2 separate regions of the Homo sapiens genome follow, and region 1 is linked to region 2. Evidence: fine-mapped expression QTL. A gene starts in region 2. The other region holds a variant in brackets. All regions are shown on one strand. Distances are from middle to middle.

What was found.
Region 1: its variant is fine-mapped to the expression of SERPINH1 in monocytes (Schmiedel 2018, PIP 0.95).

The regions. Positions count from the first base shown.
Region 1 is chr11:75,580,801-75,585,308 of GRCh38, forward strand. It overlaps MAP6-AS1 (MAP6 antisense RNA 1), which reads left to right and starts at 2,396. Exons shown (of 2, transcript NR_145823.1): 1 at 2,396-2,481. RefSeq lists silencers at 2,414-2,523, 2,534-2,683 and an enhancer at 3,430-4,009. The variant G/C (reference allele first, on the strand shown) is at 2,094.
Region 2 is chr11:75,560,417-75,564,416 of GRCh38, forward strand. SERPINH1 (serpin family H member 1) reads left to right here and starts at 1,837. Exons shown (of 5, transcript NM_001235.5): 1 at 1,837-1,903. RefSeq lists enhancers at 1,517-2,056, 2,057-2,597, 2,598-3,136 and silencers at 1,573-1,832, 1,843-1,892.

The DNA.
Region 1 (4,508 bases), 21 kb after region 2:
AGTGGCTCATGCCTGTAATCCCAGCACTTTGGGAAGCCGAGGCGGGCAGATCGCGAGGTCAAGAGATCGAGACCATCCTGGCCAACATGGTGAAACCCCATCTCTACTAAAAATACAAAAAATTAGCTGGGCATGGTGGCATGCGCCTGTAGTCCCAGCTACTCGGGAGGCTGAGGCAGGAAAATCACTTGAACCTGGGGGGCGGAGGTTGCAGTGAGCCGAGATCACACCACTGCACTCCAGCCTGGCAACAGAGTGAGACTCCATCTCAAAACAACAACAACAACAAAAAAAACTAATTTCGCGCCTATGAAAAAAATTCCAACATACATGACAATTAAATAATAGTACACATAGCTGGGCACGGTGGCTCACGCCTGTAATCCCAGCACTTTGGGAGGCTGAGGCGGGCAGATCCTGAGGTCAGGAGTTCAAGACCAGCCTGACCAACATGGTGAAATCCTGTTTCTGCTAAAAATACAAAAATTAGCTAGGCGTGGTGGTGTGCGCCTGTAGTCCCAGCTACTCGGGAGGCTGAGACAGGAGAATCACTTGAACCTGGGAAGCGGAGGTTGCAGTGAGCGGAGATTTCACTACCACACTCCAGCCTGGCCGACAGAGTGAGACTCCATCTCAAAATAAATAAATAATAGTACCCATCACAAAACTTCAATATGTAACGACATTTTGCCCATTTTGTTCAACAGATTCTAAATCCATATTGCAGGGAAGCCGTTATGGTCTCTAACCCTGTTAACTCTTCATCCTTGATGTCTTCCCCAAGGTGACATTCCTTTCTAGTTTTCTTCTGACTCCTCTGCTGCTTTAGGGCAGCCTCCACTTGGGGGCTCCTTCTTTTGCCTGTCCCCTGAATGTGGGTGTTTCCCAGCGCTCTGACCTGACCCCATCCGTCTCTCGCTTTCCACACTCCTGCTGGGTAAACTCACCCTCTCTCATAGCCTTTTTACCTTCTGTGGGTTGGCGAGGCTCACATTTCAATGAGGTCTGCATCTCCGCCTTCAGCTCAGACCCTTTTCCCAGTCTCAGACCACCATGTCCAGAAGTCTGGACACCAAATTGAGTCCATCCTCCTGCCAAAACAAGCTGTTTCCTGGATTCCCATTAATCCACACAACAATAGAGATCTACTCATATTTATTAGATACCAATTTTTATGTAAGAAAAAAATGTAAGATTCTGGAACAAGCCAAAGAAATTACTGCTACATGAAAAAGATGGACAATAACAAGTGTTGGTAAGGATGTGGAGAAACTGGAACCCTCCTACACTGTGGGTGGGAATGTAAAACAGTGAAGCCCTGGCCCACCCAGAACCAGAATAAACGCCGTAGAGGATTTTTCCCCTTTTCCCCCCACTTCAAGAGATGGGCTCTTGAGCACAGTAGAATGATCAGAGCTCACTGCAGCCTTGAGCTCCTGGGTTCAAGCCTCAGCCTCCGAAATAGCTGGAACTACAGGCATGCACCACCACACCCAGCAGAGGATGTTGAACTGATGGCCCAAGGTGGAGAGGGAGTGAAAGTGCAGGTGCTTTGATGGATGAGGGATGGAGTGGCTTCCCTCCGGGAATGAAGGTGTGCAGAAAGGGCCACGCGCCTGCGGGCTGGGTTGCAGGGCCTCTGAGGGATGGGCTCAGATGTGGAAGCTATAGGAATGCCTGGGCAAACTGGGCAGAAATACCACAACCTGGGCAGGCTTTGGGAGGTCCCCAGCCAAGCCCTAGGGAGAGGGAGAGGGGCTGCCAGCCCCCCGGCTTGGGCTCAGGGAAGCCATAGTGATTCTTCTCAGGATGGCCTGAACCTCCTGGAATTGTGATAAGCCCCAAAGACAGGATGAGGCTCCAGGAAAATGACTAATATCAGATTTCCTGTCAACCGTGGCAACGAGAGAAGGGGGCTCCCAGTCTATTTAATTAGATTTACCAAAATAAAGACGTGGCATTTCTTACACCTGAGTGCCATGCTGTGATGCATAGACTGAATTACAAATTGTGAGATGGGTGAGGTAAGAGGGGGTGGCCATAGAGATAGTGAAAAGTGGGCAAATTTGCTATTTAGCAGGAAGGCCAGGCAG[G/C]TCTTACTGATAGTTTGGAAGCTGAGGGTCGGAGACTGGTACTGAAAAGGATTTCCCGGTTTCTGGCTGAGAACTGGGTCAACCCGAGTGCATTCCCACCCACTTCCTCTAGACCATCCATCCACTCAGCGGCACAGACTCCCGAAAGTGTCGCTCCAGTCCGAGTTGGCTCCTGTCCCTTGTCCACATAGACCGTCTCCCCGCTCCCCCAATATGGCACAAGGTGCCTAGGCCGTGTGGGGCGTCGGCAGGTATCACGGGTGGGGTCCATTGTGTGAGGACTAACATCGCGGCCTTTCCCCAGACCAGCCACCGGGGACTCCAGAGAGGCCTCGGCCCAGCTCCCGGAAAGGGTCTCCCAGCCAGGCCTTCTAGCGGCCCAAAGCGGGTAGGCAGAGCGCAGATACCGGGGCCTCTTTCGCCCACCCTCGCCAGGGCACTATCCTTCCCACCGGCCCGATCCCGCGTCCCGAGGTCTCGCGGGGCCAGGCTGCACGGGCGGCGGAGCCCGGAGCCCGGGGCGGGGCCGGAGATGAGCCTGCAGGCGGGGGGCTGTGCGAGTGCGCGGGGACGGGGGCTGCTGTTTCCGAGCCGAGAGCCCTGGTAGCGGGGCTCTGTGGGCGGAGACGCCCTCCCGAGCCTGGGCATCTTCGGAGTGGGACTCTCGGGTCGGAGTTCCGCCGCCGGCCCATCCAGTTTCAGCGGGTCGCCTTTGCCTCTGGGCCGGGTGGGGAGCCTCCCATTCCAGAGACCCCCCGACTCCCTGCCCCTCGCGGCGTAGGGGCGCCCTTTCTGCGGCGCCGCGGGGCCGTCCTCTCCCCTCCCCGGGCGGCTGCAGCAGGGGCGCGGGAGCCCGCGGACTGCGGGGTTGCGGTCGCCCCTGCTTTGTGAGTTCCCGCAGCTGGGAGGAAGAAGGAGAGGAGGGAGGAGGGAGAGGTGGGGAAGGGGACGCCGCGGGAGACTGGGAAGTGGCTGCCGCAGGGAGGAGCTAGGCCTCGAGTGAAGCCTGCTTGTAAGAAGGGCCAGGAGAGTCGGGTGCGCCCCCGCCCTCCCTGCCCCACCCCAAGATGGGGACCCAGAGCCCCTCCTCCCGCACTGGGCCTTCTTTCTGGGTAGTGGAGGGCTGGACTGGACTGAGCTGGGAAGGCCTGCAGCTCAGAGGCGCTGCTCTGTGCGTCAGGACCGGCTTGCAAATGAAGATGTTGAGGGGCTGGCTCTGGGCTCATAGCAGAAACTGCCAGATCTAGCGGCCACCCCTCAGTCCTCATCTGCGCCGGCCCTCCCAGCTTTCGACCCGGCCTCACTGTCTCCTGATTGAATCACTCCGGGCACCACAGTTCCCTGGTTCCTCCTTACAGCTCCGGGCCAGCCCCTCTGAACTTTTTCTGGGCGATTCTCTCTGACCTCTTAAGTCCGCAACGCTTGGAACAGGACCCACATCTCTTTCCATTCTGACACTCTCTGAGGGAGCGCAGCGTCCTTCATGTGGGGCTTGTGACCATCCTCCCCCCAGCCCCAGGGCAGCTGACTACCAGGCCCTGTTTCCAGACGTCTCTTCAGAGGTCAAGCCTTGGTAGCCAGTGGCCTGGACATCTGCCCCCGGGTGTCTCGGAGGCCCTCAGGGAAACCTTGTTCTGCTTCTCAGAGATGGCGCCACGGTTCGCTTGGCCTGTGGAAACGTGTGTGTCATGGGACCTGGTGTGTGGGTCAGAGGAAGGACTGGGAGGAGGAGGAAGGTGTCCACATGCGATTTTTTTTTTTGAGACAGAGTCTCGCTCTATCGCCCGGGCTGGAGTGCAGTGGCTAGATCTCAGCTCACTGCAATCTCTGCCTCCCAGGTTCAAGCGATTCTCGTGCCTTAGCCTCCCAAGTAGCTGGGATTACAGGTGCCTGCCACTACACCCAGCTAATTTTGGTATATTTAGTAGAGACAGGGTTTCACCATGTTGGTCAGGCTGCTCTTGAACTCCTGACCTCAAATAATCCACCCACCTCGGCCTCCCAAAGTCCTGGGATTACAGCCGTGAGCCATCGAGCCCGACCTTCACACGCAATTCTTTAGCCTCAATGTGGCCTTGTCTTATCTTCAGGTTTCTGACTATTGGAGCTCATATGGCAGCAAGCTCTGAGGGCTACTTTTGTGTTGGGCCAAAAAAAGCCAACCTCACTGTGAAGAAACGTCTCTCTCTCTCTTTCTCTGTGTGTGTGTGTGTGTGTGTTTGTGTGTGTATAGACAAAACCCTAGTGCTGTTGGGAACGGGGTGAGGAGGCAGGCTTGGGGCCAGTTGGATGGGGAAGGCTTGCTTAGAAAACTAGACTATTTGGGTGTCCTCCATACTGTATTTCCTCTGATGATTTTCCTGTAAGAACTGAGCTGAGCTCCTTTGAAAGGGATAGCAGTATTCCTTGGGAGCC
Region 2 (4,000 bases):
TTGAGGCAGGAGGAAGCACATGAGAACCACGACAGCCACCCCAAAGAGATGGACACCATGCCAAGGCTGGAAGCTTTTGTTAATAATCAGACCTGTCCTAAAAAAGAATGCGGGGCTGCCTCTGAAGGAGGTAAGCTCTCTCTTCTTAGAGGTGCCTCGGTGCTTGCCTTTTTGGGATACTGAGAAGAGGGCTTCTGCCTGGGGCTGCAGACAGGAACCCCTGACCTCTGAGATGCCTTGCAGCTCAGAGTCTTTAATACATTTATTCCAGAATCCTTCGACTCTGAGATTTTAACATGTTAAGATTCCTTAGCTGGATTCAAAGACTCCTTGGGGGCTTTGAGTGGAAGTAATCTCTGATTCCTTGACCCTGAATCACAGAGTCTGAAGCTTTTGGGATCTGAGATTTCCCACAGTCCTTGTACTCAAAAGACTCTGAGCTGCAGAAGCCTACCCAGACAGAGAGGTTTGTCACCACCACCAGGCTTCCCCACAACCACTAACAGAGGGCAGGGACCCAGGTGATTGACTCATTTGCTGGGTACTGGGATTTTTTTGCTCCCCAGGATCCAGGCAAGCACCTAGAAGAAAGAAGATACTCAATGCATTCATTCATGACTGAATGAATGAAGAGTCCCTACCCTGTCCCTTCCTCTCCATACTGCGTCCATCCAATAGCTATCATTAAACTACTAAAGAGGACTTTTCGGAGGGTAGGGAGCCTCGGCTGATCAGAAATTGAGCCACTGTCGCCCAGATTATTTAGGGTTTCCTAAATAATCTGCCTCACTGAATCACTGAATTCCCTACTAACAGGTACATACCCCACAGATGGACATCGCACAGGGCAAGGACTTTGTTCAGCTCTCAGCTGTGTCCTCAGCACCTAGAACAGTAATGAATACCCTAGCTTAACTTGGAGGTCAAGGAGCTATCAGTTTGCGAGGGTGGGGTAGGAATTGACAGTGAGACCTGAGGCCTGTGGGAGGGGACCCAAAGAGGGAGGGGATGCAATAGGGAGGGGGCCAGGGGTGACAAGGATTGAGGAAGGGAGAGAGGGGGGAAAAAAAGCAAGGGATGCCTTAGAACCACATTTCACAGCCAAGGGAACAGAGGCCCAGAAAGGGAAAGTAACCTGCTTAGGGTCACACAGCACCTTGCTCAGTGGAGAGCCAGGTTTTCCTTCCTGTGCACTCCTCCAAGCCCAGCCAGACCACCTGAAGTTCCCCAGGCATCTCTGCCTCTATTACTCCACGACTTGAACTTTCCGGGTGCCGGGCAGGTACCGGGTCTGGTCTGCTCCCTCTCCCTCTGGCCATCGCTGAGGTTGAGGTTTTTTGAATGTACAAGTATGGAGAAGGGCACTGCCTTCAGAAGCCTGAACGTCTCCCCTGAGAGGGAGGGGGTGCACAGGACTCAATTGTTTCAGCTTGAAAATGGGGGAGAGCGGGGAGAAGGGGAGATGGCTCTGCTTGGGGCAGAGCCCCTGCGGGGAAAGGGGCGCCTGAAAGGACGTGCGATTCGGAGTGGGCTAGCTTATGCAGAGAGCCTGGGGGTGGGAGGAAGCTCGCACTCTGAAGGACACGCTGATCCCCGTGGGGACTCCCGGCGCCCCGCAGCCCGGGCCGCCGAGGGAGGCAGTAGGACCCAGGGGCCGGGAGGCGCCGGCAGAGGGAGGGGCCGGGGGCCGGGGAGGTTTTGAGGGAGGTCTTTGGCTTTTTTTGGCGGAGCTGGGGCGCCCTCCGGAAGCGTTTCCAACTTTCCAGAAGTTTCTCGGGACGGGCAGGAGGGGGTGGGGACTGCCATATATAGATCCCGGGAGCAGGGGAGCGGGCTAAGAGTAGAATCGTGTCGCGGCTCGAGAGCGAGAGTCACGTCCCGGCGCTAGCCCAGCCCGACCCAGGTGAGGGGCGGGAGACGCCTGCGTGCGTGCGGCCCGGGGGAGCGCCGAGCAATCTGGGGGTGCGCGAGGGAGTAAGAGGGGCGAGGGGACCCTGCGAAGCGTTGGGTGCCGAGCCAGAGCCTACAAATTGGAGTCCTCGGCACTTTGGGGGCCGCTGGAGGGTTTGGAATCGAGAGCCCAGGGCTAGCCAGTGATGGTGCCAGCTGAGGGCTAGGGCGGAGATCGGAGCCGGGTTGGGAGTCCGTGCACTCGGAGGACTGGGAAAAAGTGCAGGGACCCCTAAAAGGTGGTGGTGGCAGATACGAGACTAGGTGCTGTGTAAAGGGGGCTGGGGGCAGAGAGCAGAGCCTCTGCGGAAAGAAACAGAGGAGGAAGGAGATGGGTCTGGTGCCTCTTCCCGCAAGGGTAGGGAGGATAGGCCGGCCTCGCAGTTCCAGGTCACTTCCGTTCTGGGGTTGAGGCTCAGGGGCAGCGGTGATTGGTGGCCCAGCCTCCTCACAGGCTTGCTGAGGGAATTTGAGCTTCCGGTGGTGGGAAAGGAGGTGAAATCGTCTCGACTCCTGGGGTCCGTGTGCTCTGGTAGAAGTGGGCGACAGTGGCTCAATTTCTGATCAGCAGCTTGCAGCCTAGATGATGGCAGCCAAAGGAAAGACTTGGCCAGCGAGGCTCCCTACCACTCCGAAAAAAGAGAGTGGGGGTCAGCAGGGTCTGCTCTGCTCTGGGGATTAAGGGGCTGACTAGAAGGATTTGAGTCTTTCCTTCTGTCCACTGCCACAGGGTTCTTGGAGTAACTGCAGGGTTTAAACTGCAGGGTCTAACTTCCAGAGGCTGGGGTTCCCTGCCCCCCAGCTTAGAGACATTCCTGAGGTGGCTGAAGAGCAGGAAGGAGAATGAATGCACTTCCAGACTGGCCCAGAGTCTCAGCCCCTCCTCTTCCTTGTTTCCCGCTGGTCCCTCTGGGCTGTACGGCCCGGATGGAGGCCTGAGGAAAATGAGGGGGCTTTGGTTCTCCGGAATTCCGGCCGGGGCCACACCCTCCTGTCTTCAGATGGTTCATGTACCCATCCCCCCTTCCCGTCCTCTCCTTTGTCTCCTCTGTCACCGGGACTCCCAGCAGAGATTTTTTTTTTGTACTGGCTGTGTAACAGGACACCGCATGCAGCCCTCAGGAGGGGCTCTGTGCTTCTGTGAGGAAGGACCCCTGTGCTGGGAAGGCAGACCCCTGTTTATCCCGAGGGACCTGGGGTGACCCCCTGCCCTGGCCTTGTTTCTCCCATTTTACAGTGAGGTGGTCGATCTCCAAGGTCCCTGTAGATTGGGGACTGGTTGTGCCCTCTGCGCCAGGGGCCTCCTCACCATCTCTCCTTTGCCGGCTCCCGCCCTCTTCACTCTTCTGTTTTCTTTCAGAATGAAAAAGGCAGGCATTGACCTCCCTCTGAGGCAGTTTCCAGGTACTTTAGACCTCTCAAGTGTTTGGGACCCTCTGGTGGGGTCCCATCATCTCCTCCCCTTCCCTTCCAGACCCTGCTCAGTCCAGCTAGCTGTGGGCACAGCCCTGGCTAGGTGATCTTGTATTTTCTTTGTGGGACTGTAACTCAGCTAACCTTGGCCTGAGGGCTGGCATTTCTCTGTGGCAAGATGGGCTGGGCTGTGGGAGGCTGGCCTGCTTGCAGTAACTTGCCTTCCCCCATTCCTGCTGCTGGGTTCAGTGGGGCTGCCCTTCTCCCCAGTAGCGCATTTCCCTTCAGAGATTCATGTGCGGATGGGAAGGGAACTAAGGCCAAGAAGGCTCCTGGAGTCCCCTGGCAAATATGTGGCACCCCCTGGGACCTGAGTCAGGCCTGCTTCCCAGGCTGGAAGCCCCCCTCTGCCGGCCGGTGGAGATAGTTCAGCCTCCTGCCTGCCACGTCACCACCAGGAGCAGGCGCTAAGCTGCTGCGGGCCTAGCGGGCTGCCTGAGGAATCCCAAACCAGTTATTTGGAGCTTGCTTGAGAAGCCCCTCCCAGTCCTTTGAGGTTCTGGCTGGTGGGGGTGGGGGCTGTCAAGATGGTACCTGCCACGTGGCATGGCTGGGAGTGGGCTCTTCAGCTGCCTCC